3 linked regions of the Homo sapiens genome follow. The protein of the gene in region 1 interacts with the protein of each later gene in a pairwise test. Each region holds a gene or a part of one and is shown on either strand. Other genes may lie near its edges.

What was found. Proteins that work in one complex are often made in the same cells at the same time.
Region 2: the proteins of TEK (region 1) and PTPRB interact in binary tests that used the Homo sapiens proteins (3 or more experiments, as listed by UniProt).
Region 3: the proteins of TEK (region 1) and PTPRC interact in binary tests that used the Homo sapiens proteins (3 or more experiments, as listed by UniProt).

The regions. Positions count from the first base shown.
Region 1 is NC_000009.12:27,112,200-27,119,228, reverse strand, and holds part of TEK (angiopoietin-1 receptor isoform 1 precursor), read right to left. Parts: intron 1-7,029. UniProt on the Homo sapiens protein: Tyrosine-protein kinase that acts as a cell-surface receptor for ANGPT1, ANGPT2 and ANGPT4 and regulates angiogenesis, endothelial cell survival, proliferation, migration, adhesion and cell spreading, reorganization of the actin cytoskeleton, but also maintenance of vascular quiescence.
Region 2 is NC_000012.12:70,515,402-70,522,430, forward strand, and holds the end of PTPRB (receptor-type tyrosine-protein phosphatase beta), read right to left. Parts: exon of another isoform or gene 6,111-7,029; coding exon 6,088-6,110; 3' UTR 469-6,087; downstream 1-468. UniProt on the Homo sapiens protein: Plays an important role in blood vessel remodeling and angiogenesis. Not necessary for the initial formation of blood vessels, but is essential for their maintenance and remodeling. Can induce dephosphorylation of TEK/TIE2, CDH5/VE-cadherin and KDR/VEGFR-2.
Region 3 is NC_000001.11:198,642,039-198,649,067, forward strand, and holds part of PTPRC (receptor-type tyrosine-protein phosphatase C isoform 1 precursor), read left to right. Parts: intron 1-7,029. UniProt on the Homo sapiens protein: Protein tyrosine-protein phosphatase required for T-cell activation through the antigen receptor. Acts as a positive regulator of T-cell coactivation upon binding to DPP4.

The sequences.
Region 1 (7,029 bases):
CAGCACAGTGAGGTGTTTTAAAGAGCCCAGGATTCGGGTTCAGGTCATTTTTCAGTGTAACTCTTGTCTCCATCATTTCCTACTGAGACATGTGGTCAGTCAGGATGATTCACTTCCAAGGGATAGAAGCTAACTCAAAATAGCTTAAACAAATAAAAGAAACTAGCTCACAGAACTGAAAGAGGCAGGGCTGCGTGTTTGAAAATCCTTGGACCCACGTCTCAAATGCTATCAGAGTGCCTGTCTTGGTCCATCTTTTGTTATTGGCCTCATTCTCTCGTACTAAAGACTAGCTTCCTTCAAGTGGTCAGCGAAGTTGGTAGCTCCAGGGATACAGTGTCCTCTATGAAGAAAGAGAGGCTTTTGCTTTCAAAGTGCTCATAAATTCCCAGGGAAAGAGTCTAACTGGCCCTGTTGGGTTGTGCATCTTCTGTTTGAACCAACTGCTGTTGTTAGTTGGCTGGGACATTCTGTGACCAGTGATTGGCAGACCCATCAGAATCACCTAGAGGGAAAGCACGGCAGTTCTTGAAAGTTTGAAATGTTAGGCATCCAAAATAATGGATGGCCGCCATTTTCCGGTTTGTTGTTGTTAAGATGAGGTCTCACTATGTCACTCAGGCTGGAATGCAGCGGCATGATCACGACATTCATGCAGCCTAAAACCCCCAGGCTAAAGCGATCCATCTATCTCAGCCTCCCGGGTTGCTGGGACCACAGGTGTGTGCCACCATACCCAGCCAATATTTGTATTATTTGTAGAGATGGGTCTCCCTATATTGCCCAGGATGGTCTCGAACTCCTTGGCTCAAGCAATCTGCTTGCTTTGGCCTCCCAAAGTGCTGGGATTACAAGCACGAGCCACCACACCTGGCTGGTCACTTACATTTTAACCTTGGACATGTCACTTAACCTTTGTGAGCCTTGGTTTCCCTGTCTATTAAAAAAATAATAATACCTATAGTGTAAAGTTGTGAAATATTAAAAATCATATTTAACACTTGGCACATAAAGGCATTCAACCTAGGGTAGTCATTTTTGTTATTACTGGTACTCTTATTGTTTTGTGGTTGTTTCTGACACAGGGATCAGAATTTGAAGCCCATCCCAGATTCCCAGATGTCTAAAGCACTCCTGTCCCCAGGGTGGAGTCCCCTTTGGCTCTGCAGCCAGACGCCTTGCACAACCCAGGCCCTGTGTGCCAAGGTTAAGCTGGTTCACCATCTGACGGCCGCAGAGCAGTGAGTGCCTCCCCAGCCCCAGCAATGTCAATACTGCCTTCCTGACTCCGCCTATTGTATCTGGAGGAAAGTGGCCGAGCATTGTCTTCCAGTGCTCCCCCCAGGAAGCATGATATCACCCTTTAACAAAAGCGGGAAAGCTGACAGATCTGCTGAGATGGGTGTGACCAGCACATACACCTCACTGGTCAAGCCCTGGGCAAGGGGCTGTGACAAGCAGAGAGCAAATGACAGCCGCCCACGATGCCCTTCAAACCCCACGCCTGACTGGCTTCTTTGGCTAGTCCAAATTTTCTCCCTCTCTTTGTCACACTCATACCACATTAGACATGAAACCACCAAGCAATGGGTATGTACTTCCTCTAATATGCAGATGTGTTGAAAAGTGTCAGGACTCTGCATCTGGCACATCCACGTCTTCACACCTGCTCCTGCAGCCTTTGGGAAGGAGCAGGAGAGAAGAATGATCAGATTCCTGAAGGCACACAAGGGGACAATGGGGGTGGGGCTGGGGGAAGAGGTCACAGCTAGATCTAAAACTCATTCTGCAGGTGTAACACGAGTTAAGGAATCGTCTGGCCAGATGGGTAAGAATAGGGTTATCAGTTCAAAATTCCAAAAATAAGGGAGGCAACTTTAGACATTCCCTTTCCTGAAAGCCAGGAGTGAAGCCAGCTGCTCTCTTCCAGCTCTGGTTTGGTGATGCTGCCGGTGCAGCTGGCTCTCTGTAAAATAACACACCTGCAGGCTGGTGCTCCAGTGTCAGGCCCGGAGGCTGTTACTCTGCTGCCCCATCTTACTGTCTTCTTAAAATTCTCTTTCCGGCCGGGCGCAGTGGCTCACGCCTGTAATCCCAGCATTTTGGGAGGCCGAGGCAGGCGGATCACTAGGTCAGGAGATCGAGACCATCCTGGCTAACACAGTGAAACCACGTCTCTACTAAAAATTAAAAAAAAAAATTAGCTGGGCGTGGTGGCAGGCGCCTGTAGTCCCAGCTACTCGGGAGGCTGAGGCAGGAGAATGGTGTGAACCTGGGAAGCGGAGCTTGCAGTGAGCCGAGATCGCACCACTGCACTCCAGCCTGGGGGACTGAGCGAGACTCCGACTCAAAAAAAAAAAAAAAAAAAATTTCTTTCCATGGCTGCTACAGCAGCAATTCTCTAAAGTCCCAGGATAGGAATGTCATTGGTTTTGCTTCTCCTGTCAGCTCCTTACCTGTTTCTTCTTCATCAAATTTTTGGGTATCTGCTCTTTCTCGTTCCTTCATTTCAATCTTGAAATATAGCCATGCCCGTGGCTTCACTTACCATATACCAAAGATTTCTACATCTCAATCTCTTGCCCAATCCCCTTCCTCTGAGCTTCAGATGTGGGCAGCCAAATTTTGATAAATATCTTCCTTTATGGCCAGGTGCGGTGGCTCACGCCTGTAATCCCAGCACTTTGGGAGGCCAAGGCAGGTGGATCATGAGGTCAGGAGTTCAAGACATGGCCAACGTGGTGAAGCCCCGTCTCTACTAAAAGTACAAAAATTAGCCGGGTGTGGTGGCAGGTGCCTATAATCCCAGTTATTCAGGAGGCTGAGGTGGGAGAATCACTTGAACCGGGGAGGTGGAGCTTGCAGCGAGCCAAGATCGTGCCACTGCACTCCAGCCTGGGCGACACAGCAAGACTCAGTCTCAAAAAAAAAAACTTCCTTTACATGTAGCCTCAAAATCAACATGAACAAAATAATTATTTGCCTTATCCCAGCCCACCTCCATTCAGCACACTGAATGGCACCACCATTATCCAAATCAGAATGCTGGAGCAATGACTTATTCTCCTCCCTCCCTCTCAACCTTCCATATACAACCAATCACTAACTCCTGCAGTTTCACCTCCTAAATCTCTCTCAAGCCCCCTGTTATCCTCACAGTCCTCTTGCCTGGAATGTTAGGAAGCCAACTTGGTCCCAGCCTATGGTCTCTACCATGTTAATCCATCCTGAAAACTATTATTAGAGTGAATTTTTCAAGACATAAATCTGATATATGACATGATAGAACAAACACTCTGCTAAATTTCAACATGTACAGAATGAGGGACAACCTACTTAAAATGGCCTGTGAGGCCCTTCTTGATCTGACCCCAACTTTAATTCTCTACCTTCATCCTACATTACAGCTTCACTCAGCTTCCTTAAGCCTGCCCTGCTATTTTATACACACCCCCTTTGTATAGGTTGCTCCCTCTATGTCCTTTCTTCCCTTTTCCTTTTCATCTTGGTTTCAAAATCATTTGGCTATGAGCAAGTTATAACTATAACTGGACCTGACTTTTGGCAATATTCACAACTATTTAGGAGTTCTTGCAAAGACAGAAAAATCAACCTACAAGTTGTTTTCAAAATACTACTCATTTTCTTTAGTTGACATTCCACGTTTTTAGACATTTAATTAAATATTTATGTTCAATTTAGTTTCGTTTGTTTGTTTGTTGTTTTTTTTGAGACAATGTCTCGCTCTGTTGCCTAGGCTGGAGGGCAGTGGTATGATCATGGCTCACTGCAGCCTTGACCTCCCAGGCTCCAGCAATCCTCCCACTTCAGCCACCCGAGTAGCTGGGACTACATGCACGTGCCACCATGCCAGGCTAATTTTTGTATTTTTTGTAGAGATGGGGTTTTGCCACGTTGCCCAGGCTGATCTGAAACTCCTGGGCTCAAGCGATTTGTCTGCCTCAGTCTCCCAAAATGCTAGGATTACAGGTGTGAGCCACTGCACCAGACCTTTATGCTCAATTCAGATATTGCTATTTCATTTTGTATCATTGGACCCAATAAAAACTTTTACAGCCCTTGAAAAGCTCAGATTTTGTAAATACCTTTATTTGCTGTAATATCTCTATTAAATCATTTATCACAACATTTTACAATTCATCCGCCTATATTCATTTTTCCCACTAAAATGTGAGCTTAGCAAAGGGAAAAAATTATTTATCCTTATTTATATTCCTAGTTTCCAGGACAGTACATGGCTCAAAGGAAACCCTCAATAAGTCTTTGTTTATTGAAAGGATAGATGAGTGAATGAATGAATGAATGATTGGCACACAGTAACTCAATAAATATCTATTGAATAGAAAATACGACTATGTTATAGGTAATATTCAACAATCATACAATACCTCATCTTAAGTAAGGCCCTGGTTAGAACCACTTTTATGAGTATATCTTTTATGTTTCACACCTAACAGAAGAAACTTTCTTTCAACTTTATTTACATCAAACATTTAATATAAGCTAAACTTTTAAGATGAGAGTGAATATCATTTACAAGATATATAAAATTGATTATCAGATTGGTGCAAAAGTAACTGCAGTTTTTACCACTACTTTTCACCAACCTAATATTAAATTTTTTTTTATTTTTTTTTGAGACGGAGTCTCACTCTGTCATGCAGGCTCGAGTGCAGTGGCATAATCTCGGCTCACTGCAACCTCTGCCTCCCTGGTTTAAGAGATTTTCCTGCCTCAACCTTCCGAGTAGCTGGGATTACAGGCACATGCCACCATGCCCAGCTAACTTTTGTATTTTTAGTAGAGGCAAGGTTTCACCATGTTGGTCAGGCTGGTCTCGGACTCCTGATCTCGTGATCTGCCCACCTTGGCCTCCCAAAGTGCTGGGATTACAGGCATCAGCCAACGTGCCTGGCCCAATGTAATATTATTATTTCGATGTTACTGAGATCCTTTCTACAATGTTCTCTTTTCCTTTCAGCTCCGCTGTGAAGTACCAACATTTTCTTACTGTGACCATAAAACTCCATTCAACAGAAATTACTAAACATTAAATACATGTACTAATGAGAATAGAAAAGAAATAATATCTGTTGTGAGAGATTTAGAGGCTAATTGGGCTAAATCTGGCTGCCCAAAGCTCAAAGACACAATCTGCATGGTAAAGGAGCCTAAACTTAGGGGAAGAACATCAGGAGGAAGAGTTGGCCTGGGCAAATTGAGTTGAATTGTGTTTGCAGAGTAGAGATGAAAGATGCCATTTCTAAATGGATGGAACAGCATGAACAAGAGCCAAGAGGAAAGAATGTGTAGATTGTGGAGATGGGCCTGGTTGAAGCAGACAAGATACAAACAGGGATAAATGGATAAGTGAGGGGAGGGTAGATGGGTAGTTGGCAAAGTGTTTGGGTTTATTCAGTTGGAATTGGCCAGCACAAAGTTTGAGAGACAGGATTATACTGAGGTTTTGTAGAAAGAGACAGCATCTATGAATATTAAGTGGTTCTCCTACATCCTGGGGCAGATTAGATCAGTCTTGACTAGCACAGTGGTTCTCATAGCAACACTTCTCTTTTGATTATACTAGCTTCATTATTTATTTTATTTTATTTTATTTTATTGAGACGGAGTCTCACTCTGTCACCAGGCTGGAGTACAATGGCGTGATCTCAGCTCACTGCAACCTCTGCCTCCTGGGTTTAAGCGATCCTCCTGTCTAAGCCTCCCGAGTAGCTAGGACTACGGGCACACACCACCACACCTTGCTAATTTTTGTATTTTAGTAGAGATGGGGTTTCACCATGTTGGCTAGGATGGTCTTGATCTCTTGACCTCATGATCCACCTGCCTGGGCCTCCCAAAGTGCTGTATTACAGGTGTGAGCCACAGCACCAGGCCCCAAGCTTCATTTATTAAGAGAGTTCTCACTGGCTAAGCATTTCACAGGCATTATCACATTTGATTCTCATCACAACCCTGGAAAATGGGTATTTCATCCATAAAAGATGAGAAAAATGTGGCTTAGAGAAATTAAATAACTTGCTTATGGTTATCCAAGTTGGGCTTTGACTTTGTAATCCATGTTTCCTCCTTCAGTTTGCCTGCTATGTTCGCTGTTAAATTTCTCAGGTCTTCAGTGCTTCATGGATGTGCTCTTAGCAGTAGATTTCAGTGAAGTGATTACCATTTCTGATTTGGACTTCATATTTCTGCTAATACAACATATGACAGCTTATGCAGTACCTTTTTAGCAAGCAGAGCCTATGTTGTCTTCCATGACTTTTGTGTATCCCCAAAACCTAGGTGTCATTCACAAGAACTTTCAACAAACCAGGTCTCTCCCACATTAAATATACATAACTTATTTCTTGAACCCAAACACAGAACCAGACATTTACCTATTTTGAAATGGTATCTTTTTGTTTTGGTTTTCCACCCTTCCAGCCTAGAACAATCTATTTAAATCCTGATTCTGTGAGCTCACCAGTAAGCCATCTACAGAGAATAAGCAGGTGATACAATCACACAGATATCCTTTGGGGAGATAGAGGCTCAGGAGGCAAACTGATAATTTCAGAAGAATTTAGAGCCCACCCACCTAAATTCCCCAGAGAACATCACATAGTCTTTTGAGATGAACTTAGAAGACTCCTTCCCTCCTGGAGAGACGCCTTGGAAGAACTAGACTCTTCCAGGAAGCTCTCCCAGGGCAGGGCTGAAAGGGAAATGCTGAGACCTAACAAACAATAAAGACAATGCTTGGAAGGGAGCATCTGTGAAAAAAGCAAGCTCCTCCCTCTGAGAATAATTCCAAAGGGTGTCTCCGATCCCAGCTTTCAGACCTCCACCCTTGATTACTCAGACTTGACACTAGCCTTCTGAGACCAGCCCTAACAAGGGGGTTTCATCTGGGAGCACTTCCCTGACCTTACAACTGTTTCCTCTGCCACCCCAGACAAGATGTCTGCTATCTCTGAATCCAGTTGTTATTTAAAATGTCAAGTGACA
Region 2 (7,029 bases), on another chromosome or scaffold:
GGAGTTGTGAAGGACAGTGATCTTTCCACTAAAATATGAAAAAGGCAAAAGGGCAAACTCATAACTCTGGAAATAGTCATGGCGTCTCTTTACCAAATGCCACACTGTCCGCAAATGTGTGAAGTGTCTCTGAAGGGCTCAGTGGAAATCTAGCCAGGGCAGTACCTCTGAGAGTACACCAACACTGTTGGTAACAGATGACATTTTGGTTATTAATGAAGTAAAGAACTGAAAACAGGAATTTAGTTGGAGACGGTCAGCTGGAGAGTCTATTATTATGTACACAATACTGTAGGTAACCAACTCAGTACTTACAGGACTAAAGGTTAAGACAACTATATTCTTCATGATAATGTCCTGGAAGATTTTTCTCATTTTAAAGCAGTCACTTTTGGCCTTTCTCCTGAACAGACAGATGACAAAAATTGATAAATGAGGAGCAGGTGAATAGAAGACAGAGCACTCTCCTTCAACAAACTGCAGTTTTATTCCTGTACTAGTGAGAATGTATGCAAGATGCTATATAGATTTTTTTTTTACCACAGTTACAAATATAAAAATGTATTAAGCAAATACATAATTTAAATTGAAAGACTAAGGAAGTTCTTTGTTCAAATACAGTTAGTTAGAAATATTGTGGGTAGATGCTATAATATGAAAAAATAGAATCATCTGCCATCTTAACTGGATTTTCAGAGAAATAATAAATGATATTAAAAACATAAAAGTGCTCTATTATAGAACATAAAAAGTTCAGTTGCTGTATTTACTTACATTATTTATGCTTCACACAAATGAAGGAATGGCTAGATTAACCTGCACGGACAACAGTATTATTGGACACTGACTACCTAACATCCAAAATATCAGGCCAGGAGCAATTTCAAGAAGTGTGTGTAGAATGTCTATGAGCTGTGCACTAATTTCCACAAGGTAGGAGTCGAGACGAGATTAAAGACTTGGTCCTTGTTCTTGAGGAATTTATAAGCCCAATAGTCCTGCATAGAAAACCAGAAATACTCTTCCAGTAGAGCACTGGTGCACCCTCTTGTCAGTGTGGCAGACTAGGACATTCCACAAAGGCTGGTACAGGCTTTCCTACTAACCTGCAGATGGAATGCTGTCCAACTCTGCCACAAACTCTTAAAGCCACAATTTCATGTGTTCCTTTCTTGATGGAGGTGCTTATCTACGCACACAGCTATTAGAACATCTCAGCATAACTGAACGTTTGTTCTTGGGGTGAGGATATTATTTATTAAAATAGCTATAACCAATTCTTTTTGTGACTGTTCTAGAAGGGACACATTGCATTTGTCTGACATTATTCACAGTTTTGAATAACTTATTTTGGTGTCTTATATAAGATCATGTGAATTGGCATAGAGGTTATAAAAATAATCTTTGGTAAACCTGTTAATCTCTTATTTCCATTACATAAGCCTCTATTTTCAGAGCATTCACCAACAATTTCTTTATTTAATAAGTGTATCTTATATAGACAATCTTTTAAAAAATAAAATGCCTTATTTGTGTTGCATACATTTATTCCGAGGGAGCCTCCCTACAAGTCAAGAGTATTCTCTTAGCCAGAAATACTTCTATTGCTAGAAACATTTTTAGAACAGAACAGATTTTTCCTGTTATCATGGCTGCATCAAATGTTACCCTGCATTTTAACTAAAATGGCCAAACATTTTCAAAGTCATCATGCACTACAAGAATCTAAGGCAGTGTGTCTAAAATGCCAAACCCAGTACATTTAGTTAAATATCTGGTCAATTCAAAAAGCAAAATAAATTGATTCAATTGTTTAATCAGTTAAACCATCTGGCCAACATAGAGTGAATCCTCAAAAGGGCAACATGTCCTAATAGAAACGTGTGACAGGATTGTCCAAGCACACCCAGGCCACACAGAAGAGATGCCATTTTATCTTCATGATGATGTCTGGTTAGATTCTGTTTTGCAAATATTTTCTCTTTGCATCATTTCACTTGCTTTTTGCAGTCATCGTTTACAGATTTTCCTTTGATAGGGAACATTCTTTGAATACCTGATGTAATTCTAAATTTCAGGTTAAAAATAGCAGGGCAGAAAATTAGCACGGCATTTTCTCCTTCAACTCTTCAGGAATGAGGTAGGCTTGAGGGCTTGCTCACTGCAACTTGGAGGAGGATCAGTTATTCCTTATTGCCACTCTGTCTTGGCTAATCAGTTATATTTTCATTTCCTCAGTGAAATGGAACCCAGAAAGCCCTTGAACTGCTATCATATACAAGCAGTTTATTACCTATTGATTTTCACCAGGTCAGGTTTGGTCTGGCTCATGTTTGTAAACTAAAACTCTAGAGCGTCTCAGAGTTTGGGCTCAGATACTACCACTGCTGTTGTGCAGATCTGGTAGCTTTATGATTTCAGGATTCCAACCTCAAAGAATTCTTAGAAAGCTAAGTGAATGAGAATTTAGTATATGGCCAATAATATTATTGCAAAAGGTAAGGAAAATGTTTAACATAAGAAACTGGATCCTTAAACAGCAAGGCAAGAGAATCAGCATGTGAAGGGTAGCATGTGAGGTCTATTTTTATATTGCTGGACATCTGGTAAATGGTTTAATATTATTTTCACATGTCATTTTGGGCTTTCTTCCGAGAGGTGATTACAAAATTTATCAAAGACCCTCCCAAAGAAAACTGCCCCGAAAATGTCTGTGTGCTGTGTGCCTTTTAGTATTTAAAAGTGAATTGGCCAGGTGCGGTGGCTCACTCTTGTAATCCTAGCACTTTGGGAGGTTGAGGTGGGTGGATCACCTAAGGTCACGAGTTCAAGACCAGCCTGGCCAACATGGTGAAACCCCATCTCTACTAAAAACACAAAAATTAGCCAGACATGGTGGCAGGCACCTGTAATTCCAGCTACTTGGGAGGCTAAGGCAGAATCGCTTGAACCTGGGAGGCGGAGGTTGTAGTGAGCTGAGATTGTGCCACTGCACTCCAGCCTGGGCAACAGAGCAAGACTTCATTTCAAAAAAAAGTGAAATTATGGTCATCTCTTTGATGATGTGGAACCTGAAAGGACTATGAAATTATACTCATGGGTATAAAAGATAATATGAACAGTAGATAAAAATCACATTCAACTGGGAAAACAAACATATTCAAGTAGGAGGAGTGGGGCAAGTAATAAAACAGAGGGACTCAGAGGTTTAAGGGATAGAGAATTACTTAGGACAAATATGTGCAAGCCCAGGTAAGAGAGGTGAGTCTTTGAAAATTCTGATTCAAGAGCTGAACAATTGGCTGCTTTCCAGAGAACAACAGAATGACAATACAAAATTGATTTAATGAGATGAGGTTAAAGGAGTTAATTATAACGAACTTGGAAAAATAATTATTAAGATGCTAGATGGGACTCTCCCAAGATTTGATAGCTCAAAAGCACTTTGAAGTCTTGATGATTAAAGTGTACTGCACAGGTACACAGACAGGATGCCCACCAAGACAGGAAATGGAGTGTTTACCAAGACATAACACATGATGCAATTAAATGGAAATAAATCCAATAGAGCTGAATGTCAAGGAAAACTTTTTTTTTCTCCTAAATTTAATAAATAAGTCAATTATATATTTAGTCTTCCCAGGAGTAGGAGCGAATAGTGAAATATTTGTTGCTAAGAAGGTTTAAAATTAGGTGTAGGGTAGGAATAAACATTTCCTGGGTTGGATTAGACTAAAAAAACCTACGATTTTTCCCTGTCATGTCCATTTACATAATTCTGATACTACCCTAGATGTTGCCAGAGTACGTGAGTGTTATTTACTATTACAGATGCATAGGTTTTTTTTATGGTTTTAACTCCTGGTTTGTGCAATTAATTGCTCTCTCTCCTAGATCCAGAGGTTTGCTATTAAAGTAGCATTAGCACTTTCCAGTGTGTGGCCTGTGGAAGGTGACCACTGTCCTAGACTGGCTCAGTTATCCCATTCCCTTGATGAGGCTGTCTTTTAAGCTCAATTGAAGGTAGTAACAACAATCCTAACTTTATGAGGATTCTCTTTATGTGAGTAGAAATGTGTAGATTCTGGAACAGTGCCTAGCAGGTTGCAGATACTTACTAGAAGTTTTCTGAGTGAATGAAAAGTCGAAAATGAATGTATCCTTCCAAGCATTAATGTGCTTTGCATCAAGCAACATTAGTGTAAAATTCTGCTTTTTCTCTTTTTTCTTTTCAATGTAGGAAAGGTGATTTCTAATGGATGCCACACGTTGTAGATCTCTGACCTCTATTTTCTCGCTGGTGGTACATCTACTGCACTTACACATATGTTGTTCCTTTTCATTTCCAGAAGATTCACTTAGTTCCTTGATACAGAATCAGAGCTTAAGACTGTCATTTCACAAGAGCATTGAGCACAATGAAACTGTGAATCTTTGAAGCTTATGATTATGCTTCACATTTTTGTAAACTTCAAATAACCTTGGAAAAATTTCCAGATTGGGTGTAGAGTTATTTAATTATAAAGAACTATTTTAGGTATAGTCAATGATTTTCAATTATTATGTCAATTACATTCGTTGTATTCACTTACGGACTTTATGGTAGGTTACAAAAATATATACTTTGAAAAGAAATATACTCTTTATGCAAAGGAAGCTATGCCATCAACAAACTTGACCTCTAATTCCCAAGTTTATTACAGAAAAATTTGTAGTGTGAAAAAGGCAAACATCTCCAGCTCATCTTCTCAGGTATCTATGAAGATTCCGTACAAACTCCTTTCAAATTTTTCCCAGGAATGCTGTCGGAACTGGACCTTGATGAAGGAAATACTTTCTGACTCATTGGAATTTGTTATAGTCAAAGTAAGTAAGGCACAAATATTGAAGATAAACTTGGTACAGTATGTAGTGCCTTTTGTTATTAAATGCAACTTTGGGTGATTACTTGACATTTTGACTTCATTGATTTACTAAAAGAAGTTTTGAAAATTTTACTGAAGACCACTGTTTTTGTTTTTGCTATTGTTTTTAAATTTACTATATATGATGTTTGTAGTCATTTCTATGAAAATGTTGGCATTAAGCCTTTTAATGAGGGGCACAATCTGCTACCATAATATTCTTTTAATGGGAAATCAAGTAGGAATGGATAATTGTGACTTTTCTAGGAATGGAGACCACTGAAAATGAGACAGAAACTAGTGTGTATAAATACATTACAGTATGGGTGTGGATGTTCACACTCCACACCATGAATGCAATGAAAGGATCTCTAATCACTGTAGATAGTGCTTTGCATGTTATGTTTCCAGTCTGGGTATAGCTGGCATCTTATTAACAAAAGGAATTCATCACTTCTGTTTGGAATCATTCTCTATCAGAACCCTCAACCCTGCATCCTACCATCCTGGGCTTGCACTGCAAGTTACATGATCCCTGAGCTGACCACTTTGGCTTGAATCCCTGGAAGGAGAAAGGAGAGAGAGAGCAACTAGTTCAGACACAAGCATCTAGTTCAGCTTTGGTACTGCTTAATTCTTTTTTCTCCCTCCCTCTAATCCTTTTTTTGACTGTCACATTTGTCCTAATAGCAAGTTAGGACATGTCTGTTGGCTCTCGAGATTCATGGGACAGCAATGCAGCAAATCTAGCCATAGTATTTGCTCTCTCTAGCCCTGCCCTTTTTCCTGTCCAGTGAATATCAAAACAGGTAGAAAACATGGCCTGAAGGATTGTCTCTGCCACCACCTCCATATGCATTTTACCAGTAGTCCTGTCATACAGGTTGAATTAGTTTTATGTAGAACAAGTCATGAACACTTTAGTGTGGAAAAATAGTATTATATAAAGCTTAATATTAAACATTATGAAAAATACATATTTACAGAAGAAACTACAAAATACAACTATGTACAATAATATCTGTTACCTTTAAATTATATAAAATTTTAAACATTCTCCAGATTAATAAATTATACATAGTATCAACAGAAATAGCTGGCACCTCTGTAGGGCATGAAGCAAGTTTTTAAAAACAAATCACACAGTGAATAATTTTTATCCAGGAGCTCTTCAGGTACATTCTCAATGCCTTGAATAGACTGGATCTGAAAGGAAGAACACTGTAATTAGAGACTGCCGCAGGGTGTGTCATAATTGTTTACGCTGTTTATGAAAATTACCAATGTGAAAGACCAGCAGAAACATATAGCTCAACCTAGTTTAAGATGAGACCATTCCTATTGGGACCAGGTAATTCCATTTAGAAAGACAGATTATTAGACTTGGAAGGGACTAGTGATTCTAGCCCATCGCCTCTGTTTTTATGGATGAAGCCATAGGCCCAGAGAGGCAGAGTAACTTACTCAGGGTTACACAGCTTGTTACAGCTAGTTAGTTCGAGAGTTCGGACCTGAATCTTAGCCTTCAGCTACGTGGTGGTTATCCTTTTCTATACCATAGTTAGCTTCTTTCAGGAGTGCTCAAGATTACTCTAAAAAAAGATTCTTAAGTCAAAACAAGACAAAGGAACCTCCAAGATCCCTCAGAACTTGCTCATACTGAAGCCTCTTAAGGAATCTCCCATGCAAAAACCTTAATTTACTATACAGATCAATTAGGGTGTAATTTGTAATTATTCATAATACAAAATAATTATCTGATTTACAAAGGACTCCTCTAAATAGTAGCTCTTTATTTGTGCTTTACAGATGCTAACTCATTAACATACTGGCTAGGCTGGGTGGTAGAGAGAACTAAGTAAAAGGTTAGGAGACACTACCTGTTGAAGATCATTTAGAATGGAGATAAGAGGGTATGAAATAATGTTTGTCAAAGAAAGATTATCTGATTTATAGAGAGATACCAGTCCACATGGCAAGGAATTGTGGCTGCATCTGCCCACAGCCATGTGAACAAGCCATTATGAAGCGAGTCCTCCAGCCCCAGTCAAACCTTCAGATAATGGCAGCCCCAGTCTAAGTCTTGACTGCAACCTCCTGAAAGACTCTGGGCCAGAGCCACCAG
Region 3 (7,029 bases), on another chromosome or scaffold:
AATGTCCTACTAAAAACCTGCCTGTGACCTTTATCATTGCTAAAGTTTGAAATGTACTTTGTTACAGGAAAGACTACGGCTAGGGCCTATATTATCTTTTTCTCTTTTGTTCTGTGTAAGTAAGTATAGGGGCAGAGTAGTTAGCTTGAACTTAGTTCTTTCTTTGTTCTGGACTATTTGCTATCCTCTCACCAGTGACAATTAACCAGTATAGAAATATAGATGTTTCTACATTGTTCATATACTTGAACATATATTTCTTTATGTAGATACTCACACATAAACTAGTTATATATTTGTGGGTTATATATACTAGTCAATCTATCTATCTGTCTATCTATCTATCTATCTATCTATCTATCAGTTCTCCATGTTTGTCTATTTGGCGTTCCCATGAACTTCAGACCTTCGCCTGTGTTCTCTTTTCTCCATTTGGTTACGTATCATTGCCTACTATGTGTTGATCACTCTGATTCTCCATCTCTAGACTCATCCCTCAGAAACACGGAACTTACTACCTTTCCTAAATCCAGACATTAACATGCTCCCCAAGTCCTGAAATTTTGCTTTGTAATAATCTCTAATAACTTCTTGCTTTGACACCTCCATTGCCATCATCTTAATTCATGGCTTTATTATTTCTCACCTGTAAAATTGTAATAGTTTTTTTAATCAGTCTGAAGTCTCATCCTTTTTTTAATGTAATCTACAGCTTAAAAAGTAAAATAAAAAGTGAAGGGTTACTGATTTCTTCTCATTGCCTTTGGTATAAATTCTAATCTTTTTTGCCAGAGAAACTGGTTCCACTAATGATCTGGGGGCTAGGCCTGGAGCTGGGAAGGGATCTTTTTTCTTTTCTTTCTTTCTTCCTTTCTTTCTTTCTTTCTTTCTTTCTTTCTTTCTTTCTTTCTTTCTTTCTTTCTTTCTTTCTTTTTTCTTTCTTTTTCTTCTATGATTGATTAAAAGAAAACAAACAGGAGGTAGTTTTAACACCCACCTCTATACTTTCTCAAGGTGTTTAAGGTTCTGGGCAAATCCTACTTCTTCTATTATGTTCTCTTATGTCACTTTTGCCACAAAATATTTCCATTGAATTGCACACTTTTTATCACCTTTTCTTGGCATTTTTCAAGTCATTTCAATCTGCTCTTTTTTGTGATGATGATTGATGATGATGATGACATGTGAATTAGTGGATTTCTTGACATTGTAACCTACATGAAATCAGGTATAGGAGACACAAAAGGCATAAACTCATAGTTCCCATACCTAATTTTTCACCAGACACTGAATAAATCATAGATTAAAAAAATAAAACTGCATATTGTAGTGACAAAGGAAAGGAAAATTTTCAAAGAGGGAAGTCAAAAAGAGGGAGAATATGAGATAAAAAAATTAACCAGAGGCGAAGTGGGAGGATGAAGACAGCAGGACTATTTTGTCCAGATTAAATTAAGTTGATTTTGGATCTAGATGTTTACAGTCTTGCCTTTTTGTTTTTGTTTGTTTGTTTGTTTGTTTTTTCTTTGCTCCCTTTCTTACTCTCCTTATCTCACCTCTCGTCTGGAAAGAGCCTCCTGACTTCCTAAAAGTTCATAGTTTGAGAATGTTTTTCCTAAATTTTCTTTGATCTGCTCTTTGGACATTCTAGGTAATGTAATTTGGAGGGTCAATTTTATTTTTCAGATACACATACCCATAGGAGAAAAAGCAAGGAATGGGAGGGAAATACAAATGTAGCGGAGTGATAACACAAACAGATCAGGTCCAGTCATGGCAATTGCTGGTTTGAACACTGATGCTAGTGCTCTGGGATTGCTTGCAAGGGCAGATGGAATATGGTGCACCCTAGGTGTTGCATTATTTGCACGACAAAAGTTTGTAGAGAGCTGGGAATAATTTCTTTACAGACAGTGTGGTGATGAATGTCAATCTGAGTAGGTAAGGGGCAGAGATTTGTACTGAGGTTGATTCATTCTCTTGGTAAATACACAATGTTCACAAAGGCAAGGTTTCATCTTCAGACCATGTGTGTATATGTCACCTTGGTGCAGAGAGAGAAATTTTTCATCAGTGCTGACCTTTGATTTTTTTTTCTAGACATCTTATAGATTTATGTAGTTATTTACATGGGAAACAATTAGAATGGAAATTTAACATATCTTCAGTTTAAAATTAATTTCTGTCTAGTCTAAATATCTTTGTAAGTACTAGATACTCAATCCCATAGCAGTGGCCTTTTACCAAAGGCTTAGTGCTATGACTTTTGCATACATAAAGACCTCACTTTTTAAGATATGATACACCAGAAAAAAAATATGGCAAGACTTTAGCAATATGATTTGATGCCTATTTCTATATAATACCCAAATATACAGGAATAAAAATTATGGCAATCACTGGATTTTGTGTACCTGGCTCTAACCAATATTTATATTAGAAAATATCTAATTATTGTCTAAAATATTTAATCTTCATTCCTGTTTGTATGTCAGTGTGCTACTTCAATATCAGTCTGTTAAAAGAGTCTAGGAATGACTACTATAAGCAGAGAATTATATGTTCAGGAATCACAACAAAAAACAAGAACAAATAGAGAAACAAAAGCTTTCCTACTCTTTCATCTAGGACAAGAATAAATACACATAAAGTCAATATTAGTGAAGTAAACAAGCATCTTCTATATCCATTCATAGTACCTTCAATTGATTGATTTCTTAACAGACAATCAGCAAAATTATCAGTTTTTATTAGAGATTTTAGTAGAGACCGAGCTTAAACAAATATATTCTATGGTGCTTAACTCTATAGTATTTAAAGATTCAATATTTATTTCCTCTAAAAATGAGTCAAGTGTCTGAAAGGAAAAAGCCACCTAACTGAAACTTCAGTTTCTACTATACAGGGTATTTATTATAAAACTGTAATTACAATGCAATTATATTGAAGTATAAATGATCATCATTCATTTATTTAAGAATATAATCAAAATTTGCATACCTGGAAGAAAACCATCCACCCTCCAAAATAGGGATTTGCTAATGTAGGAGTAGAAGGCAAAAGTTGAGGGTAACTCAGGTAACACACTCATACGTATTAGGATATGAACAGCTGGTATAGCAAACTTGATAGAAATCACTGATAGACAAGAAGACATTCTCTGCATTTTAAATTAAAGTACAATTTGTCTGTGGTCATTCAAGAGATAGTTTAGAGAAACCTATACAAATAACAATGATGCTAAGAGACAATATCAAAATCACAATAAATATCATGGCAATACAGTGTGGCCACTATATTTTAAACACATCCACTTGATGAAAAATATAATAATTTACTGATAAAACATATTAAGCATAATAGAAAATGAGGCAGAAACCACTCCAAGCTGGGAAACATCATGACATCTGTAGTGATAAATATTTTGAAAATCTAACTCTATGAATCTTGTGATTTTTAGCTAAATCAATTTTCACCCTTGAGACCCAATTTCCTCATCTATAAAGTGTTGTAAGCATTAAAAGTTATAATATTTGTGAAAATGCTTTGAAATTATGTGATACTCTGAGAAGTAAATTTTTTCATGTGAGCCCATGAAATCAGAGCACATAGCCTTTTAGCATAAACTTGATTCCAAATGATATCTCTTCCTTTCAGACACTGTGAGCAGATAAAGGGATAGTTTAAGGTTAAGTGATAGAGGCATAATCCCTTATAGGCCTTTGAATTCTTTTAACTTTGCATTCTTTATTTCAGAGATTTTTCAGGCTTCTCCAGATTCTACAGTCTAAATAGTTTGTAAATCCACACACTTCTACTTTGCCAGGGATTTCTTAGTGTAAAAATATCCTGAAGTCTCACCTGCCTTCAATCCTTACTGTGTCCATACCCACCATTACCAGGATAATCTTTGTAAAAGGCAGAACTTACCTTTGTCCATTCCTCTTTTAAAAGCTCCTATTGGTAGAAAATATACTGAACCCGTGATTTGATACCAAGTATGTTTTGGCTCAACTTTTATGAAAACAAATATTTAATTAGAATATACCAACATTTATGAGTTTTCCTTAAAGATAAATTTTGGAGGAAAAAAACTCCATTAGACCAATTTAATTCCCTGATGATTATATATATATTACCTAGTGAAATCCTTGGCAGTTTTTCCATTTTAATTTTAATTTTACTGAACTAATGTTTAGCAGCATCACTTTCATTTAATTTTTACAATAACTATTAGATTCATGAATCCATTTTACCCATGTCAAGTTCTACTGAATATAGCTTATGCTTGGAATTTTCCTTTGTGATTATTACTTTTCTAAAGGTAATTCTTCTTTTCAAACAATACAGATCTAAATTTTCCAAAACCATTTAAATTCTTCTCTTTGGCCAGAAACATTTTCTGTGTGTAGTTTTGGCTACCGCTAGTTTAGTTTTTTTAATTGGTTTTGTGTCTCAATGCTACAAAAAATATAATTTATGTAATTTTTCATTTTTGTCAAACTTAAATCGGGCAATATTAACCATTCTCAATTTTTTGTTGTGTTGAAATTTCTATCAGTGACATTAATGTGGAGATTGACAGCTCTTTGAGCTAGATTCATTTTGAAATTTTAAGACTTTCGATTATTTCTTATCTAGCCAATAGAAACTTTAGAAACACTTTTAAGACTGCTTGATAGCCTGGAATTATTATGTTTGAATTCTCATTCATTTGTATGGTATTCCTCTTATTAGCTTTCACACTTAGTACCAATTTCTTATTCATTATTGGAGCAAAAAGTAAAGAGAAGAATCAAGGTGATAAGTTTAAAATCTTCTCAATGTAAAATAGTGTGTGGGGAAAGTGTCAAATCATCCTACTTTGGTCTTTGTGCATTTAGGAAAAATAAAAGCAATTAGCATTGCACACACATATGTAATTGAATCTCTTCAGATTTGTCTGGCTTTATCTCTAACCACTTTGTGACTCTTTTTGTAACTTGCATTTTTCTAAAAATGTGACCTTGTTTGGTCTTCCTACTGTTGGCCATGCTGTTTTTCCTTCTCTCCACATCTTTTTATCAATGGTGCAAATTATAAATTGTATTCAAATTTACTGTAAAGATCATGTCCTCTAGACAGCCCCTATCCCACTTGTATAACCCTTGCTCTTCAGCCCCTTTCACACCTGCATAGGTATTCTTCTGCTGTGATGATCCTTTGAATAATTCTCTTGGAGTTCTCTTTACCAGGCTCTCTTGCAGCAACTGGTGAGCTCATGTAGGCTATCACTGGGTCTCTGCTTATTTGCCAGTGCCTGCAGGTCCTCAGTACCTGTTTGCTGAACAAACGAATGGTCTGTCAGCTTAACCCAACTCTGTATGTAGAAGGCACTTAATAATTCTTAAAAACAATTTTGATTCTGTCCTTTTATTGTTATTTATGGGAATTATTTATGGTAAAAATTTCTACATAATAGAAAATTTGGAAAATGTCAAGAAATAGAAGGAAAAAGAAATTGCTTAGAGCCCATGCTAACATTTTGTTTTTCTTCCTCTATCTTTTGATCACATGCTGTGTATGAAATTTCATGTTCAATTTTTTCCCAAGTAAACCTTGATTATTCTAGACAATTTGAAAAATATAGAAATGAATAGAAAAATAAGAATTTCAGGTTTCCAGTTCTCAGGATCTAAAAACTTTTTGAGTATTTCATTTGACTAGGACAACTAGATCTATTCAGTTATTTATTAACTTATTAGTTCATTTGATAAACAACTATTTTGTGAGTGTTTTCCATGTAATTTGGGCTGAGGACACCTATCCCATGAAGCCCGTATTTTCTATCAGTGGCTTCTTGGAGATGGTGTTTTAAATCTTCCAAAATCTTCATCAGCACCCCAAAACTTCCTCCTCAAAGTAACAACATACCTTGCTACAGATAATTATTGGTGTTATCAATGTTTTATAAATTATAAATTTAAAAATCACTATCTTAAGATCTATATATAACATATTAAGTAAAACTTATATTCTTACAAGACTTCCTCCAGGTCCCTGTTACAACCAGATTTTCTTTGCAGACTTTTAAATTATGGAAGTTCTGGTGCTGCCACTGAGTTGTGTAGATTATTATTAGATATTCAATAAATAAAGTTGGTAGATGTGAAGAGGTACTAGACAATAGTCCTATTTTGTTTTGGTTTGTTTGTTTTGTAATTTATTCTGAAAAAATGTTTATGTGGAGAGAAAAGGGAAAACATACAGAAATACACAGCACACAAACAAATTCTTACTTTTTTTTGGTAGTCTTTCTAATTTTCCAAGGTCACCAGCTAATAGCAAATGAGAGTTGTAGGGGGTGGGGTGAAGGCTGGGGTCTTAATCGGGGTCTATCTGATTCTAGATAGACCAGATTCTAGATTTTCCACTCGGTTACTCAATCTTCTTAGTGGTCAGTTTAATAACCTGGAATTTAAGACATGACTGTGTGATGATGGGCAAATCACAGCAGGACTGAATGGGAGCTGGTAATTTCTCAGAGGTTGTTTGTGTGACATATGCATGTAAGTTCATTCACCTGATTTAGCTACTTACATGAACCATTGTGCACTGAGCTGCTTCTATATCTTTAGCATATTCTGTATCTATGTAAAATTCACATAAGATTGTATGACTTTTATAAAAAACAAAAAGACATCTTTGATTAATTTGTCTTCACTATGAATACTGATGTGATGTGTTACAATCATCCTGAAAAGGAGGCTAACAAAGGACAGGACTGAGTCTGTCTTGAGGTGAGTGATATGATGGAAAGAATGGATTTTCCCCCACCCAACTCATTTTTGATATTACATAAAGTGAAAAACATTAAATAATTCACCAAAGTATCTAGATTTTTTTTTGTTTTTGAAGTGCAAGGGAAGTAACTTGACCTTTGTTAAACACTTTGATCATGGAAAACACATAAGGTTCTCATCTTATTCCAGGAAGTGTAGACACTAGATAATCTTTTCATAGTCATCCAAAAAGCATATTAAGTGAACC